4 linked regions of the Homo sapiens genome follow. The protein of the gene in region 1 purifies or fractionates together with the protein of each later gene. This does not show direct contact. Each region holds a gene or a part of one and is shown in the gene's direction. Other genes may lie near its edges.

What was found.
Region 2: the proteins of CELA2B (region 1) and RPUSD2 purify together in Homo sapiens (affinity purification with mass spectrometry; 3 studies listed by BioGRID and IntAct, with this or other methods). This does not show direct contact.
Region 3: the proteins of CELA2B (region 1) and MRM2 purify together in Homo sapiens (affinity purification with mass spectrometry; 3 studies listed by BioGRID and IntAct, with this or other methods). This does not show direct contact.
Region 4: the proteins of CELA2B (region 1) and ATXN2 purify together in Homo sapiens (affinity purification with mass spectrometry; 3 studies listed by BioGRID and IntAct, with this or other methods). This does not show direct contact.

Annotation. Positions count from the first base shown.
Region 1 is NC_000001.11:15,479,076-15,486,111, forward strand, and holds part of CELA2B (chymotrypsin-like elastase family member 2B preproprotein), read left to right. Parts: intron 1-2,022; coding exon 2,023-2,120; intron 2,121-3,189; coding exon 3,190-3,318; intron 3,319-4,188; coding exon 4,189-4,325; intron 4,326-6,825; coding exon 6,826-6,971; intron 6,972-7,036. UniProt on the Homo sapiens protein: Acts upon elastin.
Region 2 is NC_000015.10:40,572,271-40,575,457, forward strand, and holds the end of RPUSD2 (pseudouridylate synthase RPUSD2), read left to right. Parts: intron 1-1,256; coding exon 1,257-1,991; 3' UTR 1,992-2,679; downstream 2,680-3,187. UniProt on the Homo sapiens protein: Pseudouridine synthase that catalyzes pseudouridylation of mRNAs.
Region 3 is NC_000007.14:2,239,206-2,246,251, reverse strand, and holds the start of MRM2 (rRNA methyltransferase 2, mitochondrial), read left to right. Parts: upstream 1-4,046; 5' UTR 4,047-4,082; coding exon 4,083-4,090; intron 4,091-6,544; coding exon 6,545-6,834; intron 6,835-7,046. Other genes in the region: NUDT1 (oxidized purine nucleoside triphosphate hydrolase), read right to left, coding at 1,526-1,689, 3,204-3,260. UniProt on the Homo sapiens protein: S-adenosyl-L-methionine-dependent 2'-O-ribose methyltransferase that catalyzes the formation of 2'-O-methyluridine at position 1369 (Um1369) in the 16S mitochondrial large subunit ribosomal RNA (mtLSU rRNA), a universally conserved modification in the peptidyl transferase domain of the mtLSU rRNA.
Region 4 is NC_000012.12:111,589,298-111,596,333, reverse strand, and holds part of ATXN2 (ataxin-2), read left to right. Parts: intron 1-7,036. UniProt on the Homo sapiens protein: Involved in EGFR trafficking, acting as negative regulator of endocytic EGFR internalization at the plasma membrane.

The DNA of each region.
Region 1 (7,036 bases):
GGACGAAATTTCCCATCTGTAGGATGGTTTCAGCACATTTTTAAATTGGGGTGGGGGAGTAGATACTTTTCAGTGTCTTTTTTCACTTGGTCCAATTTTAAGCATCTTTTTAAAAGCCAGTTCATCTAAGGCCCCTTAATGTCACAAAAACGAGAAATGCCCAGTGGCTAATTAAAAACAAGGACGTGGCCAGGCACAGTGGCTCACGCATGTAATCCCAACACTTTGGGAGGCTGAGGCAGGTGGATCACCTGAGGTCAGGAGTTGGAGACCAGCCTGGCCAACATGGTGAAACCCCGTCTCTATTAAAAGTAAAAAAAATCAGCAGGGCATGGTGGCAGGCACCTGTAATCCCAGCTAGTGGGGAGGCTGAGGCAGGAGAATGGCTTGAACCTGGGAGGCAGAGGTTGCAATGAGCCAATATCGTGCCACTGCACTCCAGCCTGGGCGACAGAGGGAGACTCCATCTCAAAAAATAAAATAAATAAAGTGGAAGAGACAATAAACAACTGAATAGGTAAACTAATAACACGCCGGAAAACGAAAGATACTATGAAGAGTAAAGCAGAGTAAGGGGAAAGAGACAAGTGTGTCTGTGTGTGCATATGTACATGAGCGTGCACGCATGTGTGTGTGCACATTGTTTGGGATAGCGTGGTCACAGAAGGCCTCATGGAGAAGGCAACCTTGAGCAGAGACTGACAGGAAGTGAAGGAAAGAGCTACGCCGATATTTGCAAGAATATTCCAGGGAGGAGGAAGAGCCAGTGCAAAGGCCCTGAGGCAGAAGCGGGTTTGGTGTATGTGCAGAACTGCATGGAAGTCAGTGTGGCTGGAGGAGAGGAGAGTGGGAGCCTATGGGGTCAGAGAGGCCACGGAGAGCCTAGCAGGTCATCAGACAGTTTTAAGTTTTGCAAACTGTAAAGGGGGAGCCACTGGAGAGTCTGAGCAGAGAAGAGAAGTCATCTGACTTCCATTCAAAAAGGATCAGTCTGGCTGCTGTGTTGAGAAAATGTGGGTGGGAATGGGGAGAAGAGATGGGAGACTAGAATGATCATCGAGAAGAGAGGGTGATTGCGACACACAGTTGAGGTAGTGACCAAAGGGTAGCAACCACTCCACAAATTCTCAAGGTAGAGCTGACAGGACATCCCCTGTGGAGACGGCCTCACTCTGTCACCCAGGCTGAGCACAGTGCAATCGCAGCTCACTGCAAGCTAGACTTCCCAGGATCAAGCAATCCTCCCATCTCAGCCTCCTGAGTAGCTGGGACTACAGGCATGCACCACCACACCCAGTGGCTAATTTTGGGGTATTTTTCTGTAGAGACGGTGTATTAATCCGTTCTCACACTGCTAACAAAGACATACCTGAGACTGGGTAATTTATAAAGGAAAGAGGTTTAATTGACTCACAGCTCAGCATGGCTGGGGAGGCCTCAGGAAACTTACAATCATGGCAGAAGGGGAAGGAAACACATCCTTCTTCACACGGTGGCAGCAGGGAGAAGTGCCAAGCAAAAGGGGGAAAGGCCCATTATAAAACCATCAGATATCATGAGAACTCACTCAGTATCACAAAAATAGCATGGGGTAACCACCCTCATGATTCAATTACCTCTCAGCAGGTCCCTCCCCCTACCTATGGGGATTATGGGAACTATAATTCAGGATGAGATTTGGGTGGGGACACAGCCAAACCATATCAGACGGGGTTTCACCACGTTGCCCAGGCTGGTCTCAAACTCCTGGGCTCAACCCATCCTCCTGCCTTGGCCTCCCAAAGTGTTCTGATTACAGGCATGAGCCACCATGCCTGGCCTGATTTTTTTTTTTTTTACTATAGATTGCATTAAAATGTTTTTTATCTTCATGGCTGAGGTTTTGGGTGCCCCCTTAAGTTGTGTACCTGAGGTGAGTGCCTCACTCCCCCTTACCCTTGTCCCAGCCCCGTTCTTGGGAAACTGGAGTGCAGGGAGGCCCTGCTTTTTCAGCCACAGCCACAGACCTGTGTTTCTCCCCAGGTCTCCCTGCAGTACAGCTCCAATGGCCAGTGGTACCACACCTGCGGAGGGTCCCTGATAGCCAACAGCTGGGTCCTGACGGCTGCCCACTGCATCAGGTAACTGCCATTCCCTGGGCGCTTGGCCTGCTCACCAGCCGGTGCTCATTTCTGAGCTGGGGGCTCAAATGGCCTGAACCACACTACATGAAGTAACCTTGCAAATAACCACTAGCCTGGCCGAGACACAAGCTGTAGTCAATCAATGGTTCAGTGTGTTGGCCCACCCATGGGTCATTTCATGGCATGGATGGAGTGTCTGTGCCAGGCAGGCACTGAGGGAGGATGAAGAGGAGGGGAAGGCCCAATCTCTGCCCTCTTGGGGAAACTACATGTGGCCTCAGTGTCTGGAATTGGGTTCCCTTGAACAACTTAACTGACTTCTCAAAGCTTCAATACCATCACCTGCAGAAAATGGAGTAACAGAATTTAGTGTGGACTCAGCAATTGATTTGCTAAAGTGCCTGGCACTTATTAAGTGCTCAATGAAAGCTAATTCTGAATTGCAGACAAATTATAAAGGCCCACAAGGTTCTGCAACGTTGTTCACTTATCCTCTTCTTTGTCCGTGACCTCTGCTCATCACAGCTGGAACTCACCGGAGTTTCTGCCGGGTCAGTGTGACTCCCTACCAGGAGTGATCCCTTCTCCCATCCGACTTATAATAAGCTCTAGGAGGTGATGGGGATACTAATAGAGGCCTACAGTCAGGAGTCCTGGCTTCTAGTTCTGATTTCTCACTAACGGTGGGACTCCGGACCAGTTACTCCTCTCTGGGCCTCAGTTTCCCCATCTGAAAATAAAAGGTTGAAAATTTCCTTGAGGGCAAATGACTCCTGTTTTCTCTGTGTTCATCTCATTCCTCCATAATACTATAGAGTTTGTGCTATTACAACATTAATTTTAAATTGTAGTTTATAGTTAGTATAGTAACAATTATTATATGATCATAGTTCTTACATTATATACTTTAGGCCCTATGATAACTAACTGACTGTCCCAGGGGAGGAAAGATCCCCAAGTGCCAACTAGTGGCTCATGAAGCAGCCAGTTACTTGGGTCTATCCCTAGCATTATTCAAAGCCAGGCCTCTGGAGGTGACCCTCTCCCTGGGACCCCTTTCTCCCAGCTCCTCCGGGATCTACCGCGTGATGCTGGGCCAGCATAACCTCTACGTTGCAGAGTCCGGCTCGCTGGCCGTCAGTGTCTCTAAGATTGTGGTGCACAAGGACTGGAACTCCGACCAGGTCTCCAAAGGGTTCGTTTCTATCTGGGTGCACTTGGGGGTGAGGTTGTCAGGGAACAGATGGGGGTCTCACAGAGGCAAAGGTCTCAACCCCACCACACCCCCTCTGCTTTTTCTATAGGGAAGAGAAAGGAGCTCTGGCCTATTAGATGTGGAACCGGCTCCAAAGATGTCTGGGGTGGGGATGTGACCTGGGGAGGGTGAAGCAAAGACTGCCAGAGCGACCTGGGTTTGCTGCCAGTTAAGCCTGCAGGGCCCCTGTCCGCTGAGTGTGTATCTACTTCATGCCAAGTCCTGGGGACACAGAGACAGTGCTGTCGACCCTGTGACTGTCCCTGGAGTAGGACACAATCTCTCCTGCCTTCCCCCTTTCAACAAAGCCCTCCGCATTTTCTTTTTTCTTTTCCTTTTTCTTTTTTTGTGAGATGGAGTCTCGCTCTGTCACCCAGGCTGTAGTGCAGTAGCACAATCTCAGCTCCCTGCAAGCTCCGCCTCCTGGGTTCACACCGTTCTCCTGCCTCAGCCTCCAGAGTAGCTGGGACTACAAGTGCCCACCACCACAGGCCCGGCTAATCTTTTGTATTTTTAGTAGAGACGGAGTTTCACTGTGTTAGCCAGGATGGTCTCGATCTCCTGACCTCATGATCCACTCGCCTCGGCCTCCCAAAGTGCTGGCATTACAGGCTGGCATTACAGGCTGGCATTACAGGCCACCGTGACTGGCCGACCCTCTACATTTTCAAACATGCCCTGTGGGCCCTGCCGGTCAGAGCAACCTGGGGTAACGTACAGGGAAGATGACAAGGTCTCCAAGCCCTCCAAAGCCCCATAGGGCAGGAAAAGTCAACCCTGTTCTCATGCTCCGCCTCCGCACTCACCCAGGAACGACATTGCCCTGCTCAAACTGGCTAACCCCGTCTCCCTCACCGACAAGATCCAGCTGGCCTGCCTCCCTCCTGCCGGCACCATTCTACCCAACAACTACCCCTGCTACGTCACGGGCTGGGGAAGGCTGCAGAGTAAGTGGGAGCCAGGAGCCCCCAGGCCTGGGAGGGAAGGGAGGTGATGTCACCCCTGTCCGGCCAGGGCCTCTCACCTCACATGTTATCCTGGGCATGTGGCTGCCTTGGAGAGACAGGATGGCATAGGCTGATGTCTGCCTGGGTTCAAATGTCAGCTCTCCCACTTAATGACTGTGACACCTTGGACACATTACTAGGTCTCTCCAAGCTGCACTTTTCTCATATGTAAAATGCAAATAATTGGCTGGGCGCGGTGGCTCACGCCTGTAATCCCGGCACTTTGGGAGGCCGAGACGAGCAGATCACTTGAGGTCATGAGTTTGAGAGCAGCCTGGCCAACATGGTGAAACCCCGTCTGTACTAAAAATATAAAAAACTCGCCAGGTGTGGTGTTGTGCGCCTGTAGTCCGAGCTACTTGGGAGCCTGAGGCACAAGAATCATTTCAATCTAGGAGGCGGAGGTTGCAGTGAGCCAAGATTGCGCTGCTGCACTCCAGCCAGGGGGATAGAGCGAGACTCCATCTCCAAAAAAAAAAAAGGCATAATAATACCACCTACATCACAGAGTTGTCAAGAGGATTAAAGGAGATAATCCACAGGAAGCCTGGCATGTGGTAGGTGCTGTGTGTTAGTTGTTGTCACTGTCCCTATGATGGAAAGAAAGTTACAGAGATCATGTGACATCTTCTGTGTGGCCCAAGGCTAGAGTTCAGAACAGCATTTCCTCTGTGACCTGAGGTCTCTGGAGCTCCACAAAGGCCCCTGGAGCCCTCATCAGACCCTCCATGCCCCATAGCAAAAGCTGTCCCCTGTGCCATTTGGTCTTGCTACTGAGAACCCGGCTGAGGGTGGGTCTTCTTTGACATAGACTCCAAGGGTCAGAGATCCAATGACAGTAGCCACCAAGAGGAACAGAGTTCCCGCCCTTCCCTTGTGAAAACACCAGAGGTTTGGAAGATTCTAGGAAGGGATGAGTGATAATGACCTTATGACCGTAATGACATTATTAGTGATGATGACATTATGACATTTTTTCCTAATGACATAAACCCATAAGTATAATGACATGTTTTTCCAGGGGTACATCCACATACGTACCCTCAAATAAATTCCCATTGCCCTCTTGACTGGCTTATCTGTAAACACAAGGACACATCAAATCCTGCGGTGAGTGGTGGTGGAAGAGGCATTTCATGCTTATTAAGATACAAGCACAACCACCTGTTTGTTTCCCCAGCCAACCCTGGGGCAGGTGCATTTCATCTGAGACAGTGAGAGTGGGGAGGCCTCCAAATGCTTGGCTTTTCGGCCCAGCTCTGTCGGTCACGGTGAAACCTTGGGCAAGCCACTTCCGAACCTCAGTTTCCTCATCTGTAAAATGGAAACACTGTTGGTGAAGACTAAAAGAGGTGAAAGGTGGAAATGCATCACACATTGCAAAATGTTACACAAGTGTTAATTACTTATTAATTAGAATGGTCTTAAGCAAAAAGCTTGATTTTTTTTTTTTTTGAGACAGAGTCTTGCTCTGTCGCCCAGGCTGGAGTGCAGTGGCACAATCTCTGCTCACTGCAACCTCTGCCTCCCACATTCAACCGATTCTCCTGCCTCAGCCTCCTGAGCAGCTGGGATTACAGGCATGTGCACCACGCCCAGCTAATTTCTATATTTTACTAGAGACGGGGTTTCACCATGTTGGCCAAGCTGGTCTCGAACTCCTGACCTCAAGTGATCCGCCTGCCTTGGCGTCCTAAACTGCTGGGATTACAGGGTGAGCTACCATGCCTGGCCGACGCTTAACTTCCCTTGGCTTCAATAGCAAGTGAAAAATTATGTTAATCTCATCCTTGCCACTCATAGCTGTGGTAACAGTAATGGAGGTGATGGTGGCTGTGTCATTGGGGGCCATTATGAAAGCCCTCCCTTCACCACACCCAAGGAGGGGGCTCTAACTGCCAGGAGGCTCACTTTCTTATTTCAGATAAGTGACAGAAAGCCATGGAGCTAGCTCAGCAAAAAAAGGGAAATTGTTATAAGGATTTAAAAGTTTCAACCCAAGGGCAGAGATATAGCCAGGCATCAGGAAGAGACTAGAATCAGGGGCTGGAAGCCTGTGAGAAACTCAGGAAACACTCACTGAGAAATTTCTTTCTTTGTGGGTCTACTTCATTCTTCTGCACATAGAAGAAAATGTCAGCCATTGACAACAGCTTCCAAGATTTGCATCCTCTGGAACCGGAATCTCTTAGTCCCCATCTCAAAATCTCAGGGGAGGGAGTTCATTGGCTTAGCTTGAGTTAGGTGTTCACTGCTGAACCAATCACCAGTGGCCAGCACACTAACCAATCAAATGTGAGGACACAGTATAGACAAACATGGCTGTTCCCATGTTGCAATGGATGGAAGATGGTAACAGGGGAAATCCAGTAGGGGTCCACCACTTCCTTTTTCTCAGGAGTCCCTGCGTCCCTAATGGCTTCTCTCTGGTCTCATTCAGCCAACGGGGCTCTCCCTGATGACCTGAAGCAGGGCCAGTTGCTGGTTGTGGACTATGCCACCTGCTCCAGCTCTGGCTGGTGGGGCAGCACCGTGAAGACGAATATGATCTGTGCTGGGGGTGATGGCGTGATATGCACCTGCAACGTGAGTACCAAAAATCAGGGGCCCCGCTCCATGACAAAATGTGGCTGGGGATGGGAAGAGGCTAT
Region 2 (3,187 bases), on another chromosome or scaffold:
AAAAAAAAAAGGCCAGGCGCAGTGGCTCACGCCTGTAATCCCAACACTTTGGGAGGCCGAGGCGGGCAGATCACGAGGTCAGGAGATCGAGGTCATCCTGGCTAACACGGTGAAACCCCGTCTCTACTAAAAAAAAATACAAAAAATTAGCTGGGCGTGGTGGCGGGCACCTATAGTCCCAGCTACTCGGGAGGCTGAGGCAGGAGAATGGTGTGAACCCAAGAGGTGGAGCTTGCAGTGAGCCGAATCGCGCCACCGCACTCCAGCCTGGGTGACAGAGTGAGACTCTGTCTCAAAAAAAAAAAAAAAAACTTACCCTGGCATGGTGGCACATGCCTGTAGTCCCAGCTACTTGGGAGGCTGAGATAGGAGGATCACTTGGCCATGGGAGGTTGAGGCTGCAGTGAGCCATGAGCATGTCACTGCGTTCCAGCCTGAGCTATAGAACAAGACTCCGTCTCAAAGAAATAAATTAACATAAGAAAATAAAGTGCTGACAGGCTGAGCAAGGCTTTTAAGATTATGGGGAGAGCCTGCTTGGTGAAAAGATTCTAGATGTAGTTGGAAAAGTCTTGGGTAGAGGAGTTTAATGGTAATGATTGTTGTCCTGAGACTTGTAATTCTGGATCTGAATCATAATACATTTATTGAGTGCATGCTATATACCAGGCTTAGTATCAAGCACATTAGAGCCTAACTTACTGAATGCTTATCACAGCCCAATGAGGTAAATGCTTTTCTTTTCTTTTCTTTTTTTTTTTTTTTTTTTTTGAGATGGAGTTTCGCTCTTGTTGCCCAGTCTGGAGTGCAATGGTGTGATCCTGGCTCACTGCAACCTCCGCCTCCTGGGTTCAAGCAATTATCCTGCCTCAGCCTCCCAGGTAGCTGGGATGACTGGCATGCGCCACCACGCCTGGCTAATTTTGTATTTTTTAGTAGAGACGGGGTTTCTTCATGTTGGTCAGGCTGGTCTCGAACTTTCGACCTCAGGTGATCCACCCACCTCAGCTTCCCAAAGTGCTGGGATTACAGGCGTGAGCCACCTCACCCAGCTGGTAAATGCTTTTCTAATTTCACATTTTCTAGATGAGTTAGTAGGATTTAGAGGTTAAGTAATGTACCCAAGATCGCAAAACTGGCGAATGGTAGAGCTGGAGTTTGAATTTTCTGACACTGGTCCTTATCACTCCACAAAGAGTTTGGACTCCATGAATTTAGGCTTTGTACTGACTTTCTCCCTCTTCCCTCCTATGTAGCTGGAGAAGGAGTACGTGTGCCGGGTGGAAGGGGAGTTCCCCACTGAGGAAGTGACCTGTAAAGAACCCATCTTAGTGGTGTCTTACAAAGTAGGGGTGTGCCGTGTAGATCCCCGGGGCAAGCCCTGTGAGACAGTGTTCCAGAGGCTAAGCTACAATGGCCAGTCCAGTGTGGTACGGTGCCGGCCACTCACAGGCCGCACACACCAGATTCGAGTCCACCTTCAGTTCTTGGGCCATCCCATTCTCAACGACCCCATCTACAACTCAGTTGCCTGGGGTCCTTCTCGAGGCCGGGGCGGCTACATTCCCAAGACAAACGAGGAGTTGCTACGGGACCTGGTAGCAGAGCACCAGGCCAAACAGAGCCTGGATGTGCTAGATCTCTGTGAGGGTGACCTGTCCCCAGGACTCACAGACTCTACGGCCCCCTCCTCAGAGTTGGGCAAGGACGACCTGGAAGAGTTGGCTGCAGCTGCCCAGAAGATGGAGGAAGTAGCTGAGGCAGCCCCTCAGGAGTTGGACACAATAGCCTTGGCATCAGAGAAGGCAGTTGAAACAGATGTCATGAATCAAGAGACAGACCCACTCTGTGCAGAGTGCCGGCTGGTGCGACAGGATCCCTTGCCCCAAGACCTTGTGATGTTCCTACATGCCCTACGCTATAAAGGGCCAGGCTTTGAGTACTTTTCACCAATGCCTGCCTGGGCACAGGATGACTGGCAAAAGGACTGAGGGTGTGGCCAATGGAGGGATTGCTTCTTGGGTTGTGACAAGGATGGGCTATAGGGCAAGGGCTGACCCCATGGGCTAGTACTTGGGGTTTCTATAGGAATGAGGACGGGCTTCTAAAGAGACCTGCTCATACTTGCTACCTCCTTCCAGTGGGAATTTGGAGACTTTTTGGTTTGTAAATATATCCCTTTTTCTAACATCTTTGATGTCTGGTTTTCTTCCGGCTTCTTTTTTATTACTGATGTAAAATTCACATAACATAAAATTAACCACTTTAACTAGCCAGGCACAGTGGCTCATGGCTATAATCCTAGTACTTTGGGAGGTAGAAGTGAAAGGATCACTGGAGGCCAAGAGTTCAAGGTTAAAGTGAACTGTGATTGTGCTGCTGCACTCCAGAGCCTAGGTGACAGAGTGAGACCCTGTCTCTTAAAAAAAAAAAAAATTAACCAATTTAAGATGTACAGCGTAGTCACATTTAGTACATTCACAGTGTTGTACAACCATAACCTCATATATTTCCAAAACATTTTCATCACCCCAAAAGGAAACCTGTACCCATTAAGTAAGTGGTCACTTTCCACTCCCCTTCCACCAGCCTCTGGCAACCACTAATCTACTTTCTGTCTGTTTGGATTTGCCTGTTTATTCTGGACATTTTATATAAATGGAATGATAAAACATGTGACCTATGTCTCTGTTTCCCTTGGCATAATGTTTTCAAGGTTTATTCAACTTGTAGCATGTATCGGTACTTCATTCTTTTTTTATGGCAGAATAAGCTGTTGTATGGATATACCACGATTTGTCTATCTGTTCATCAGTTAATGGACATTTGGGTTGTTTCCACCATTTCATTATTGTGGATAGTGCTGCTGTGAACATTAAATATGTTTTCAGTTCTTTTGGGTATATACCTCACAGTGGAATTGCTGGGTCATATGGTAATTCTATGTTTAAATGTTTGAGAATCCACCAAACTTTTCCACAGCAGCTGAACCATTTTATATTGCCACCAGCAAGCATAGGGTTTCAATTTCTCTACATCTTCACCAACATTTGTTTTGTTTTGATTATAGTCATCCTAGTAGGAGTGAAGTGGCATCTCATTCTGGGTTGTTAGTCTTTTTGTTGTGGAGTGTAAGTGTTCTTTATATATTCTGGATGTGAGAGTCTTAGCAAAAAGACTAACAGCC
Region 3 (7,046 bases), on another chromosome or scaffold:
GAGGCAGGGACTGACCTGTTCCTCCTCATGTCCCCAGGCCCCACACAGAGCAGCGCTACAGAAATCCATGAGCTGATGGGCAGTCTTAGCAGATCAAAGACAAAGGGCTGGGCAGAGAACCCCCGGGGCCACCTTTCCTGTTTCCTGTGCTGTGGTCGCTCTGCACACACTCCTGGCAGGGACACGCTGTATGCCCGACTCACACCCAGTGGTCCTCCTCCCCAGCTGCGGCCCCCAGCACAGAGCCTGTCGCACTGGCACCTGCCACAGTGACTGATCGAACGTGTCCGTGTGGCTGCGGTCTGGGGTCCCAAGCCTTGGAGGGGAAGCACACACAGGGCTCTCCAAACTGAGGGTTGGGACCCATGTACCCCGGGAAATCGGCTTAGTGGATTGCAATTGAAAAAAAAAAAAGGGTCAAGCCAGTGGCCCACACCTGCAATCTCAGCACTCTGGGAGGCCCGGGAGGGAGGATCGCTTGAGCCTGGGAGTTAATGAGACACCATCTCTACAAAGAATTAAAAAACGAACTGAGCGTGGTGGCATGTGCCTGTGGTCCCAGCTGTTCGTGAGGCTGAGGCAGGAGGATCGTTTGAGCCCAAGAGTTTGAGGCTGCAGTGAGCCAAGAGTGTGCCATGGGTGAGATCCCACCTCTGGAGAAAAAAAGAGAAATGAATCGGAAAAGTAGAGCCCCCTTTTATGTAATAAGGGCGGCTACTGCAACTTACTTTAGCTGTACCTGCACACCTGAGTGTGTACACTCTATCAGAGTACAAAACGTATTTCTTACTGCAGGTTGTGATGAAAAAATTGGAAAGCCACTAGGCTGCAGCGTCCTGGCTTTCCTCCGTGCCAGGACCCTCTTTACTCTGTAGTTCTCCTCTCCAGGCAAGCTGGCCTACCTTTCTCAGAACAAAAACACGAACGGGGGCTAACGTCTGTGCAGCGATGTTTACACAGATGATCTCATTTACCCTGTGAGGGTTGAGGGGCGTCTGGAGGACTGTGTGATCTTGGGTAAACGGCTCAACCTCTCTGGGCTTCAGTTCCTTCCTAGGTGAAGCTGGCTGTGTTGAGGATGCAGTGAGGCTTTGTGCACAGCGAGTGTGAGATGAAAGCGATCATCAGCTCCACTGAACAGACAGAGGAACCAAGTGACTGACGAGCCCTTCGGCAACAGTGAGGGTGCTGGGAGGGTTCAATTCAAGCTGCTGCACAGAGGCTTCCAGATACGCCCTGCAGCCCCCAGCACCACCGCACCACAACAGCTAACACGCACTCAGCACGCACCGCACACCGCGCACCGTTCTAAGTCCTTCGAGTTCATTTCCTCATTTTATCTTCACAAGAGTCCGAAGGGCTGCGGACTGTTCTTCATTCTGAGATGAAGACACTGAGGCTCACGCTTAACCCCCTGCTCCAGGTCACTTAGCTCTTAGTGGTGAAACCAAGGGTGTGGCCCTACAGCCCGAATCCCTGTGCCCTGGGAAAGCCGGTTCTATGGCCAGACCTGCCCCATCCTTACCTCCTAGCCCCATCCTCGATGGTCTCTCCTTCTTGCACTTTGCCCCCAAAGCCATTCCACCGGCCGGCCCCGAAGCCTCGCTTTTTCATGCCCAGGAGAACTCGCTGAGGCTGCAGGACCAGCACCAGGGTATAGAGCCTGGAGGCGCCCATGGTCCCTGGGTTCTGAAAGGAAGGTGAGAGGGCAGAGTCAGCCATGACGTGCGTGGAGGAAGCACGTGCCAGGGGCCAGGAGGAAGGGGACGTGCTCTGGGAGGCAGTGGGGGGCGGGGGGGTATGCTGTAACTCCCCAGCCCTGCCACGTGTGGCTTCCCTTGTGGCAGGTGGAAAACTGCCATTGAACCAGTGATTTTCTGGGGTAGAAACAGAACCCAGTGGTCAGCAGGGCTGATCAAGCAGAGCAGAGGCCGGCGCTACCTTCCTTCTCCACAAGTCAGTACTCAGGTGCAGAGGACAACATCACCTTTCCAGAGCGTGCTCTTGCTCCTGCGTCTACCCCCAGGAACCCCCTGCTTATAGGCACACAGTGAGGAACAACAGTCCCCGTGCCTGATTGGCACCAAAATAACCACGCAGTTTATCCTGTGGTCCTCAGGTCAGGCCTTTGGATTAACAGGAACTTCTTTCAGTCTAGTGGGACCTGGCCTCTCTGTAGCAGGCTTCCAGATTCCCAGGAAATGTGTGGCTGTAGACACAGGTCCACCCAGCCAGGCCCGGCTAGTCCTCCCTCCTGTGATAGGAGTTTATACCCCACCCACTCTGCTCCTGCTGTGGCTACTGTGGGACCTGGCACCCAGGGGGGCCACTGGAAGTCACAAGGGTCCTTCCTGCTCCCATAGGTGTGCAGGTCCAGGTCCAGAGGACTCTGAGGGCGATGCCTCCGCCAGGTCCCTGCTGAAAAAAGGACCCTGGAGAAATGCTGGAGGGCCAGGACCAACTTTCCTTTATTTATTTTGAGACAAGATCCTGCTCTGTTGCCCAGGCTGGAGGAGAGTGGCGTGATCGCGGTTCACTGTAACCTCCGCCTCCCTGGCTGAAGCCATCCTCCTGCCTCAGCATCCCACATAGCTGGGACCACAGGCATGAGCCGCCACACCCAGCTAATTTCTGTATTTTTAGTAGAGATGGGGTTTTGTCACGTTGCCCAGGCTGGTCACGAACTCCTGAGCTCAAGCGATCCACCCACCTCAGCCTCCCAAAGTGCTGAGATTACAGGCGTGAGCCACTGCGCCCAGCCAGGACCAACTTTTCTGGGGTCCACACCTGGACAAGACACAGGGTTCAGGACCAGTGATCCTTCTTGGAAGTTGTGGTGTCTGAGAAAAGGGACCAGATGATAAGGAAGGGGGCAGGGAAGTGCTGGGTAGAGGAGGGCGTGGTCTCTGGCCAGGGCTCCACACCCAGGCCTGTGCCCAGGGACCTGGGTGAGGACAGGCATTTCTGTTTTTTTGCCCAAATGTTGCATTTCCCGAGCCCGCCACGTCCCCGTCCTGTGCCTATAAAAAAACCCCAGTGGTTTTTTATAGTGGGCAGAGACACAAGCCGCTGGACGTCAAGAGGACGTGGAAAGCACACCAACAGGCACCAGCAGGCCATCAACTGATGGAACCATGAGTTTGGCAGGGGCGGTCAGAGGAGAGCCCAGGCTGCTCAGCAGCCCGACTCCAGGGGAAAATCACCTTCCCACTCCAACTGCCTTCTGGCTCCCCCATCTGCTGAGGGCTAATTCCACTCATAAAACCTTGCACTCACTCTCCAAGCCGCCGTGTGATCTGATTGCTCCAGTACATCAAGGCAAGAAACCTAGGGATACAGAAAGCCCTCTGTCCTTGCGATAAGGCAGGGAGTCTAACAGCTGACTAACACAAGCCACCTACAAGGCTAAACTGAAAGAGCACCCTCTAACACATGCCTGCTGGGGCTTCAGGAGCTGCAAACATTCACCCCTAGACACTGCCGTGGGGTGGGAGCCCCTCAGCCTGCCTGTCTGTATGTTCCCCTAGAGGCTTGAGAAGCGGGGCACTGAAGAAGTGAGCCACATCCTCATCGCACGCCCTTCGAGGAGGACAAGGGAACCTTTCCCATTTCACTGAGACTGGGTCCTGGTGGCGGAGGCAGGTCAGACAGGGTAAATGGGTTTGTGGCTTAGTTTCACACCAGGCCCGTGTACTTTGTCCCGACACTGATCTGTTTCTGCCAGAAGCCACGGTTTCCAAAGTAAATTTTTGTGATTTACTCCTGGTCTCCCCCAAGCCTCCGCCCCGCTCTCCTTGTCTCTCTCCCAAACCCCCGGCCCCGCTCTCCTCGTCTCCCTCGAGCCCCCGACCCTGCTCTTCTGGTCTCCTTCGAGCTCCCGGCCCCGCTCTCCCCCAAGCCCATGGCTCAGCTCCCCTAGTCTCCTGCCGCCCGCTGGCCCGGCTCCCCTCCCTGGTCACCACGACTCCTGGAATCCCCGCGCGCGCTTTTCGTACCTGCACCGCCGCTTCCGGGGGCGTGGCCTCTGACCGGAAGTGAGGCCAGGCACTTCCGGCGGCGCGCTGCAGGCGCGGGGAACACCAATGGCGGGGTGAGCTGGGCGCTGCTGCTGCGCGTGCAGACAGCGGGAGTGGTTGGGGGTCCGCCCGGTCGCCTTCCTCGGTCCTGGCCTCGGGGCTGGGTGCCGAGCGCTGGGCACCGTCCCCGCACTCAGCGAGCGCGACAGGGGCGAGGCCAGGATTCCGGGTCGCAGTTCCCCGGGAGGAGGGCGCCCTCAGGTCTCCAGGGGCAGGGCCGGCGGGGCCGTGGGGAGGCCGGGGCCGGCGGCGGAGTCCAGGTGGGGGGCGCAGCGCCGGGGCCCAGATCCAAGGCGCCGGGGGCGAGCCCGGGGCGGGATTTCGCTTCTGGGCCGGGTAGCTCCATTGCCCGCGCTTCCTGGGCTGTCGAGTGGGCCCTGGCCCCCGGGACCGGCTTGTGCCATTTTCCCGGGAGACCCCTTAAGCGAGGGGAAGACAGCGACTCACGGTCAGCAGTCAGTGCCTCCTGGCTTGTCAGCACGCTTTGGTGTTGCAGAAGCTAGAAGCTTTGGCCTTGGAGCCATGAGGGTGGTAACTTTTATTTATTTATTTAAATCAGAAAGATGGACATAGAGACCGGGCTTGGTGGCCCACACCTGTCATCCCAGCACTTTGGAAGTCTGAGGCAGGAGGATCGTTTGAGCCTAGGAGTTCGAGACCAGCCTAGGCAATGTAGTGAGATGCCATCTCTAAAAAAGGTTTTTAAGAATTAAAAAAAAAAAAAAAATTAGCCCAGGCATGGTGGTGCACACCTGTAGTCCCAGCTACTCAGGAGGCTGAGGTGGGAGGTTCACTTGAGACCCAGAGGTTATGGCAGCAATCAGCTGTGATTGTGCCACTGCAACTCCAGCCTGGATGATAGCAAAACAAAAATGGCCGGGTGAGGTGGTTCACGCCTGTAATCCCAGCACTTTGGGAGGCCAAGGTGGGCTGATCGCCAGAGGTCAGGAGTTCGAGACCAGCTCGGCCAACATGGTGAAATCCCATCTCTACTGAAAATAGAAAAATTAGCCGGAAGTGGTGGCACACACCTGTAGTCTCAGCTACTCAGGAGGCTGAGGTGGGAGGTTCACTTGAGCCCCAGAGGCTGTGGCTGCAGTCAGCTGTGATCATGCCACTGCACTCCAGCCTGGGTAATAGTAAAACCCTGTCTCTAAAAAAACAAAAAGAAGAAAGAAATGCCTGGGTGCAGTGGCTTACACCTGTAATCCCAGCACTTTGGGAGGCCAAGGCGGGCAGATCAGCGGAGGTCAGGAGTTTGAGACCAGCCTGGCCAACATGGTGGAACCCATCTATACTGAAAATACAAACATTAGCCGGACATGGTAGCAGGTGTGCCTGTAATCCCAGCTACTTGGGAGGCTGGGGCAGGAGAATTGCTTGAACCCGGGAGTCGGAGGCTGCAGTGAGCTGTCACTGCACTCCAGCCTGGGCGCCAGAGTGAGACTCCGTCTTAAAAAAAGAAAAAGAGGACATAGAACTTCCTTGGTGAGGTTGTTGTCAGAGTTAAACAAGGGGAGGTGTGTATAGCTTCCACCTGCTTAGCTATTGTGGGCTGTGAATAAATTGTTACATTTATTGTAACAATTGTCTAGAGAATCTTGGAAATTGTCCTTCAACGATTGACACAGGTTTAGTTCAATTTTATTTAAGACATGTAGGTGAGAGGATTGTTTGAGCCCAGGAGTTCGAATCTGCGTTGAACCGTGACCTCACCACTGCACTCCAGCCTGGGCTATAGAGCGAGACCCTGTCTCGAAAAAAAGAAGAAAAAAAGAAATGTGACAGGCCAGACCCTCTGTACTAGCTGTCAAAGCCCTGGAACTAGGTCACTAAGGCAAGGATCTGTCCTTATGAGGTTTTCTTGCAGCCTGTCAGAGCCCAATGAACATTTTTGCCAGATGAGAAAATAATATTACTTTAATTAATTAATTGATGTATTTAGTTATTGTTTGAGACAGAGTCTCGCTCTGTCGCCCAGGCTGGAGTGCAGTGGCGCAATCTCGGCTCACTGCAACCTCTGCCTCCTGGGTTCAGGCGATTCTCCTGCTTCAGCCTCCCGAGTAGCTGGGTTTATAGGCATCTGCCACCACGCCAGGCTAATTTTTGCATTTTAGTAGAGACGGGGTTTCATCATGTTGGCCACGGTTGGCCAGGCTGGTCTCGAAATCCTGACCTCAGGGGATCCACCTGTCTTGGCCTCCAAAAGTGCTGGAATTACAGGTGTCTCCGAATACCCCCATATTCTGAGGTACCAAGGGTTAGGACATCAACACATTAATTTTGCGGGGACACAGTTTGGCCTGTGATGCCTGCTTTCCATCTGTGTAGCCTTATCAGTTCACCTCCCCTCCTGGGCCTTGGTGCCCCATCTCTAGAAATGAATGAGTTGATCCGAGGGCCCTCCCAGCTCATGACCTGCCGTTCTGTGTGATGCCAACCTGCCTGCTCCTCTTCTCTCCCACCAGGTACTTGAAGCTGGTGTGTGTTTCCTTTCAGCGTCAAGGGTTCCACACTGTTGGGAGTCGCTGCAAGAATCGGACAGGCGCTGAGCACCTGTGGCTGACCCGACATCTCAGGGACCCATTTGTGAAGGCTGCGAAGGTGGAGAGTTACCGGTGTCGAAGCGCCTTCAAGCTCCTGGAGGTGAACGAGAGGCACCAGATTCTGCGGCCCGGCCTTCGGGTGTTAGACTGTGGGGCAGCTCCTGGGGCCTGGAGTCAGGTGGCGGTGCAGAAGGTCAACGCCGCAGGCACAGGTGGGCCTCTGCACTGCTGTTGGCACCTTCTGGCTCCCCTGAGGCTGAGTGGGCATGGGCAAGCTGCCTTTGCCAGTGGATGCGGGATGGTGGAGCCCTTTTTTGAAGGCGTGTGCTTCCGAGTGGGTGGTTTAGCAATGGTGATGATAAAAATAGGATGCTGCCATTTTCAAAATGAAAGACAAGGTAGAAAGGTGCAGTGAACATGGAAA
Region 4 (7,036 bases), on another chromosome or scaffold:
TTTGTTATATATATTTTTGAAGGTGGCTGTTTTAGGAAAGATAATGTAATCACAATATTAGAACATAATTTTACTGTAATCTAATTTTGTGTGTGTGTGTGTGTGTGTGTGTGTGTGTGTGTGTGTGTTTTGGATGGAATCTCACTCTGTCGCCCAGGCTGGAGTGCAGTGGCCTGATCTCAGCTTACTGCAGTCTCTGTCTCCTGGGTTCATTTAAGTGATTCTCCAGCCTCAGCCTCCCCAGTAGCTGGGATTACAGGTTCGTGCTACCACACCTGGCTAATTTTTTTGTATTTTTAGTGAGGACGGGATTTTGCCATGTTGGCCAGGCTGGTCTCGAACTCCTGACCTCAAGTGATCCGCCTGCCTTGGCCTCCCAAAGTGCTGGGATTACAGGCGTGAGCTACTGCCCCTGGCCAATTTTTGTATTTTTAGTAGAGATGGGGTTTCACCATGTTGGCCAGGCTGGTCTCGAACTCCTCCTGACCTCAAGTGATTCGCCAGCCTCGGCCTCCCAAAGTGCCAGGATTACAGGCAGGAATGAGCCACTGCCCCCAACCATCAGTCTAATTCTTATTTTTGCTTTTTACCTTTTCATTTTTATGTAGTAGAGGTGATTGTGTATGTTATTTTGTAGTTAGCTTTTTTCCCCTGAACGTTGTATTGTAAATGTAAATTTTTTTTTTTTTTTTTGAGACAGAGTCTCGGTGTTTGCCCAGTCTGAAGTGCAGTGGTACGATCTCAGCTCACTGCAGCCTCTGACTCCTGGGTTCAAGCGATTCTCCCACCTCAGCCTCTTGAGTAGCTGGGGCTACAGGAATGTTCCACCACGCTTGGCTAATTTTTGTATTTTTGGTAGAGACAAGGTTTCACCATGTTGGCCAGTTTGGTCTCGTACTACCGACCTCAGGTGATGCGCCCGCCTCGGCCTCCCAAAGTGCTGGGATTGCAGGCGTGAGCCACTGCGCCCGGCTGTAAGGTTTTTACTTAACCATTCTATTGTTGGGAATTGGGTTTCCACTTTTTTGTTATAGATAGTGGTGCAGTGAACATTTTTAAATAGCTTTTTGCTTCAGTGTAATTATTTCCTTAGAGAAAGTTACCAAGAGTGGTTTTACTAGTTCAGAGGGCTTCAGGATTTTTATGGCTCTTGCTAGCGGTGCTCTATTATTCTTTAGAAGACTTGTATTACTTCCAGTGTCAAGAAGGTTGCTCTTCCATGGAATGGTTTCTTTGTAGTTTGTCAAATATTGTGGGGAATTTTTAAAGGAAAAATTGCATTTTTACTGTCAAGTGCATATATTATTAAGTGCTTTTGTTAGTTACTGGATTATTGATATTTGAGTTTAATTTGGTTCCTCTGAGGATTTAATAAGGTAATATATGTGAAGATGTTTTGAAACCTGTAACCATTATTATTAATGAGGGTACTTGGTTTATCTGTCGTGCTGATAGTACTGAGTAAAGTGCAGGAATGAAATTCCTGAGGAACTGTTCTAAAGCTTTGTTGTTGTTGTTAACCTTTCTTTTTCATCTGAAAGTGTTTTTTATTAGCTGCTAGCCTATGACCAAGTTATTTTTGGTAACTTTTTTGTAATTTCATGGCACTATTGGGAATTTTCGCTGGTTGACTCTTCTTCTTCTACATTCCCTTCCCCATTAAAAATAAAAATATGGATTTACAATTGTTACTCTATTCCTAAACCTAAATAATATGACATTAGAATTGCTTGGGATACAGGATTCAGTCTGAATAAAATATTTTTCTTTTAGTGATTTTCAGCTTAGTATTTTTACTGCTTCTTTCTCTTGAGGCATTGCAACTTAAAAATTGTGCTGTTTAGCCAGGCGCCTGTAATCCCAGCTACTTGGGAGGCTGAGGCAGGAGCATCACTTGAGCCCAGGAGGCGGAGGTTGCAGTCAGCTGAGATTGTGCCACTGCACTCCAGCCTGGGAGACAGAGTGAGACTCTATCTCAAAAAAAAAAAAAATGTGCTGTGATTTAATGTAGTTGTTCATCATGCTTCCATTTAAATTTCAGTGAGACTGTTCATCTTTTGCAGTTAAATATCTTGTAGAAGGGCCTAAAATATCTACGTTGAATACAGCTTTATTGAAGCATCTATGTACATGGGGTTTTTGGGATGAATCAGTGAATAAAGCAAACATATTGTCCTTTTGGAGTTTACATTCTAATGTGACTAGGCAGACAATGAGACATTAAATTACCAGCCTATGTATAATAGTGTATAAGAGCTATGGAATTAGAAGAAAGCAGATTAAAGGTATAGGGAGTGTGGGGAGGGGAATGAGTTACAATTTTAAATGGATTGGGGGAACTTAATTGAGGAGCTAACATTTGAGCAAAGATTTGAAGGTTGGGTATTTAGCCGTTTGCTTTTTATCTAGGTTAATTAGTCATGTGGCTTCATTAGTAATTTATAAGGTTTAAATGGCATCATCCTTTGTTATTCTTTTATGTGCACATTGATACTAACCATCTCTGAAGTTAGACCAAAAAAGTTAATTGACATTGAGGGTCATTAGAGGTAAATTGTAGATGGCTATTACTAACCAAAGAGACATGTTTTGTTTTTCTTTTGGGCTTACGTATTTTACCTAATTAGTTTAGTTTTTGTTTCAAGTATGTGGAGAAAATAAACTTTTTAAGTTTGGGCCAAAACTTGCTTTGGTTTTCTTTTTCTTTTTCTTTTTTTTTTTTTAAGAGAAAAATGTAAGCCTGTAGTTGCTTAAAGATTCCACATTCTGAAACAGTGAAAACATGGGATCAGTCATGGTGTTCCTTTTTTTGGTTAAATGTAAACTTGTATTTTCAGTGTTACTCTAATTAGCAATGGTTTATACTTCTACATAAGGGATGTTAACTCATATTGTAGCTATTTAATAGCCATATATTTTGACTTAAAGGAGGATCTCAAGGCCAGGCGCGGTGGCTCATACCTGTAATCCCAGCACTTTAGGAGGCTGAGGCGGGTGGATCACCTGGGGTCAGGAGTTTGAGACTAGTCTGGCCAACATGGTGAAACCCCCATCTCTACTAAAAATACAAAAATTAGCCGGGCATGGTGGTGGGCGCCTGTAATCCCAGCTTCTTGGGAGGCTGAGGGAAGAGAATTGCTTGATCCCGGAGGTTGCAATGAGTGCGGAGGTTGCAGTGAGCTGAGATCATGCCATTACACTCCAGCCTGGGCAACAGAGCGAGACTCTGTCTCAAAACAAACAAACAAACAAAAAAAGGAGGATCTCATTTTTTTGTCCTAAATAGCTACAGCCGTGTTAGAACTGTCACCTTAGCAAAGTATTGTTTTTTTACTTTGAAACGAATTTTAAGGTTTTAGAAGATTGTTCTCTAGAATTACAATTTTCTGTTTTGACTAGTGATAGTATTTTGATGTTGTGTAAATAGTTGAGCATGAACAAAACCCTATTTTTTTTTTTAGCTATTTCAAGTGATTGTGACAACTTCAACGGAGATGTAAACAGTTTATTAACAGTCACACCTATTATCTTTTTTTTTTTTTTTTTTTTTTGAGACGGAGTCTTGCTCTGTCGCCCAGGCTGGAGTGCAGTGGCACGATCTCTGCTTACTGCAACCTTTGCCTCCCGGGTTCAAGTGATTCTCCTGCCTCAGCCTCCTGAGTAGCTGGGTCTACATGCGCACACCACCACGCCTGGCTAATTTTTGTATTTTTAGTAGAGACAGGGTTTCACCATGTTGGCTAGAATGGTCTCAAACTCCTGACCTCAGGTGATCCACCTGCCTCAGCCTCCCAAAGTTCTGGGATTACAGGCATGAGCCACCGTGCTTGGCCGCTGCCGTATCTTTTTAAATGAAAGTACTTGTGTTTTTTTTGTTTTTTTCCAAAGGATATCTGGGTCATCTATGATGTTACTGTTACCATCTAAGGGTTTTTTTGTTTGTTTTTGAGACAGAGTCTCTGTCGCCCAGGCTGGAGTGCAGTGGCGTGATCTTGGCTCACTGCAACCTCCGCCTCCCAGGTTCAAGCAATTCTCCTGCCTTAGCCCTCCCGAATAGCTGGGATTACAGGCACCCGCCACCATGCCTGGCTAAGTTTTGCATTTTTAGTAGATATGGAGTTTCACCATGTTGGCCAGGCTGCTCTTGAACTCCTGACCTCAGGTGATTCGCTTGCCTCGGCCTCCCAAAGTGCTGGGATTACAGGCGTGAGCCACCCCCGCCCAGCCTCATGAGCTAAGGTGTTTTTTTTTTTTTTGAGACAGTTTTGCTCTTTCCCAGGCTGGAGTGCAGTGGTGCAATCTCAGCTCACTGCAACCTCTGTTTCCCGGGTTCAAGCGATTCTCCTGCCTCAGCCTTCTGAGTAGCTGAGATTACAGGTGCCTGCTACCCCACTCAGCTAATTTTTGTATTTTTAGCAGAGACAGGGTTTCACCATGTTGGTTAGGCTCATCTCGAACTCCTGACCTTAAGCGATCCACCTGCCTTGGCCTCCCAAAGTGCTGGGATTATAGGCATGAGCCACCGTGCGCAGCCTACCCTGTCTCTTAAAAAACAGTAACAACAACAACAACAACAAAAAATCCTAAATCTTAAAAATGGAAGGCAAAAACTCTAAGCTTTGAGAGATTAGGGGACTTGCCCAAAGCAATATTTGTAGGATTTTATTACACCTCTCCCTTTATTTATTTTTTTAGAGTCAAGGTCTCCCTCTGTCACCCAGGCTGGAGTGCAGCCTCAATCTATGGGGCCAAGCATTTCTCCTGTCTTAGCCTCCTGAGTAGCTGGAACTACAGGTGTACACCAGCTGGCTAACATTTAAATTTTTTGTAGAGACAGGGTCCTGCCATGTTGCCCAGATTGGTCTCAAACTCCTGGGCTCAAGTGATCCTCCTGCCTCAGCTTCCCAAAGTGCTGAGATTACAGGTGTGAGCCACTGCACCGAGCCCCCTCCCTTTATTTTTATTTTTAAATTTTAAGTTCTGGGGCCCCTCCCTTGAAATAAATAGAAACGTAATATATACACAAGATCATGCTGTGTATTTTAAGGCAATGGTCCTCAACCTTTTTAACACTAGGGACCGGTTTTGTGGAAGATGGTTTTTCCATAGGGGCAGGGGATGATTTTGAGATGAAACTGTTCCACCGGCCGGGCACGGTGGCTCACGCCTGTAATCCCAGCACTTTGGGAGGCCGAGGCGGGCAGATCACGAGGTCAGGAGATCGAGACCATCCTGGCTAACATGGTGAAACCCCCCTCTACTAAAAATACAAAAAAATTAGCTGGGCGCGGTGGAGGGCGCCTGTAGTCACAGCTACTCCGGAGGCCGAGGCAAGAGAATGGCATGAAACCCGGGAGGCAGAGCTTGCAGTGAGCTGAGATAGCACCACTGTACTTCAGCCTGGGGGACAAAGTGAGACTCCGTCTAAAAAAAAAAAAATTGTTCCACCTCAGATCATTATGCATTTGTTAGATTCTCATAAAGAGCATACAACCTACATCTCTTGCTATATGCAGTTCCCAGTAGGGTTTGTGCTTCTATAAGAACCTAATGCTGCACCTGATCTAACAGGTGGGGCTCAGGTGCTAATGCTCACACAGCTCCTGTTGTGCAGTCTGGTTCCTAACAGGCCTGTTTTTTTTTTTTTAATTAGATGGAGTCTCGCTCTGTCACCAGGCTGGAGTGCAGTGGCACGATCTCAGCTCACTGCAACCTCTGCCTCCCGGGTTCAAGCGATTCTCCTGCCTTAGCCTCCCATGTAGTTGGTACTACAGGCGCACACTGTGATGCCCAGCTAATTTTTGTATTTTTAGTAGAGACGGGGTTTCACCATGTTGGCCAGGATGGTGTCGATCTCCTGACCTTGTGATCCGCCCAACAGCCTCCCAAAGTGCTGGAATTACAGGCGTGAGCTGCTGCGTCCGGCCCCCTAACAGGCTTGTTTTATGGAATACAGTCACGGACAGTACTTGCCCTTCAGGATATCTTTTTGTAACCTTGATTTTGGCTTGCTAAAATAGGAGGTCTATTTTCTTTTCTTTGTTTTTAATGTATGTGGTTCTGTACTTACGTGGTGTGAAATCTACATAAATGTTAAATCCTTGGTTATTTATTTATTTTGAGACAGAGTCTCACTCTGTCACCCAGTCTGGAAAGCAGTGGCATAATCTCGGCTCACTGTAACCTCCACTTCCCAGGTTCCAGTGATTCTCCTGCCTCAGCCTCCTGAGTAGCTGGGATTACAGGCATGCACCACTACACCTGGCAAATTTTTGTATTTTTTTTTAGTAGAGATGGGGTTTCACCATGTTGGCCAGGCTCGTCTTGAACTCCTGACCTTAGGTGATCTGCCTGTCTTGGCCTCCCAAAGTTTTGGGATTACAGCATGAGCCACTGCGCCTCGCCTTATTTTTTTGAGACAGGTTCTAGCTCTGTCACCCAGGCGGGAGTGCAGTGGTGCCATCATGGCTCATTGCAACCTCGAGTTCTCAGGCCCAAGTGATCCTCCTATCTCAGCCTCCTGAGTAGCTGGGACCACAGGCATGCGCCACTATGCCCAGCAAAATTTTTGTTTCACTCTGTTGCCTAGGGTGGGGTGCAGTGGCAGGATATCGGCTCAGTGCAACCTCTGCCTCTTGCGTTCAAATGATTCTCATGCCTCAGCCTCCCGAGTAGCTGGGATTATAGGCATGCGCCACTACACCTGGCTAATTTTTGTATTATTGGTAGAGATGGGGTTTTATCATGTTGGCCAGGCTGGTCTCGAACTCCCGACCTCAGGTGATCCATATACCTTGGCCTCCTGAAGTGCTGGAATTACAGGCATAAGCCACTGCGCCTAGCTTTTTTGTTTGTTTTTATTTTGTAGGGACAGAGATTTTACCTGTTGCCCAGGATGGCCTTGAATTCCTGACCTCAAACAATTTGCCCTCCTTGGCCTCCCAAGGTGCTGGGATTACAGGTGTGAGCCACTATGCCTGGCTGGTTTTTTAAATTATTATTATTGTTTGTGTGTGTGTGTTGCAGGATCTTACCC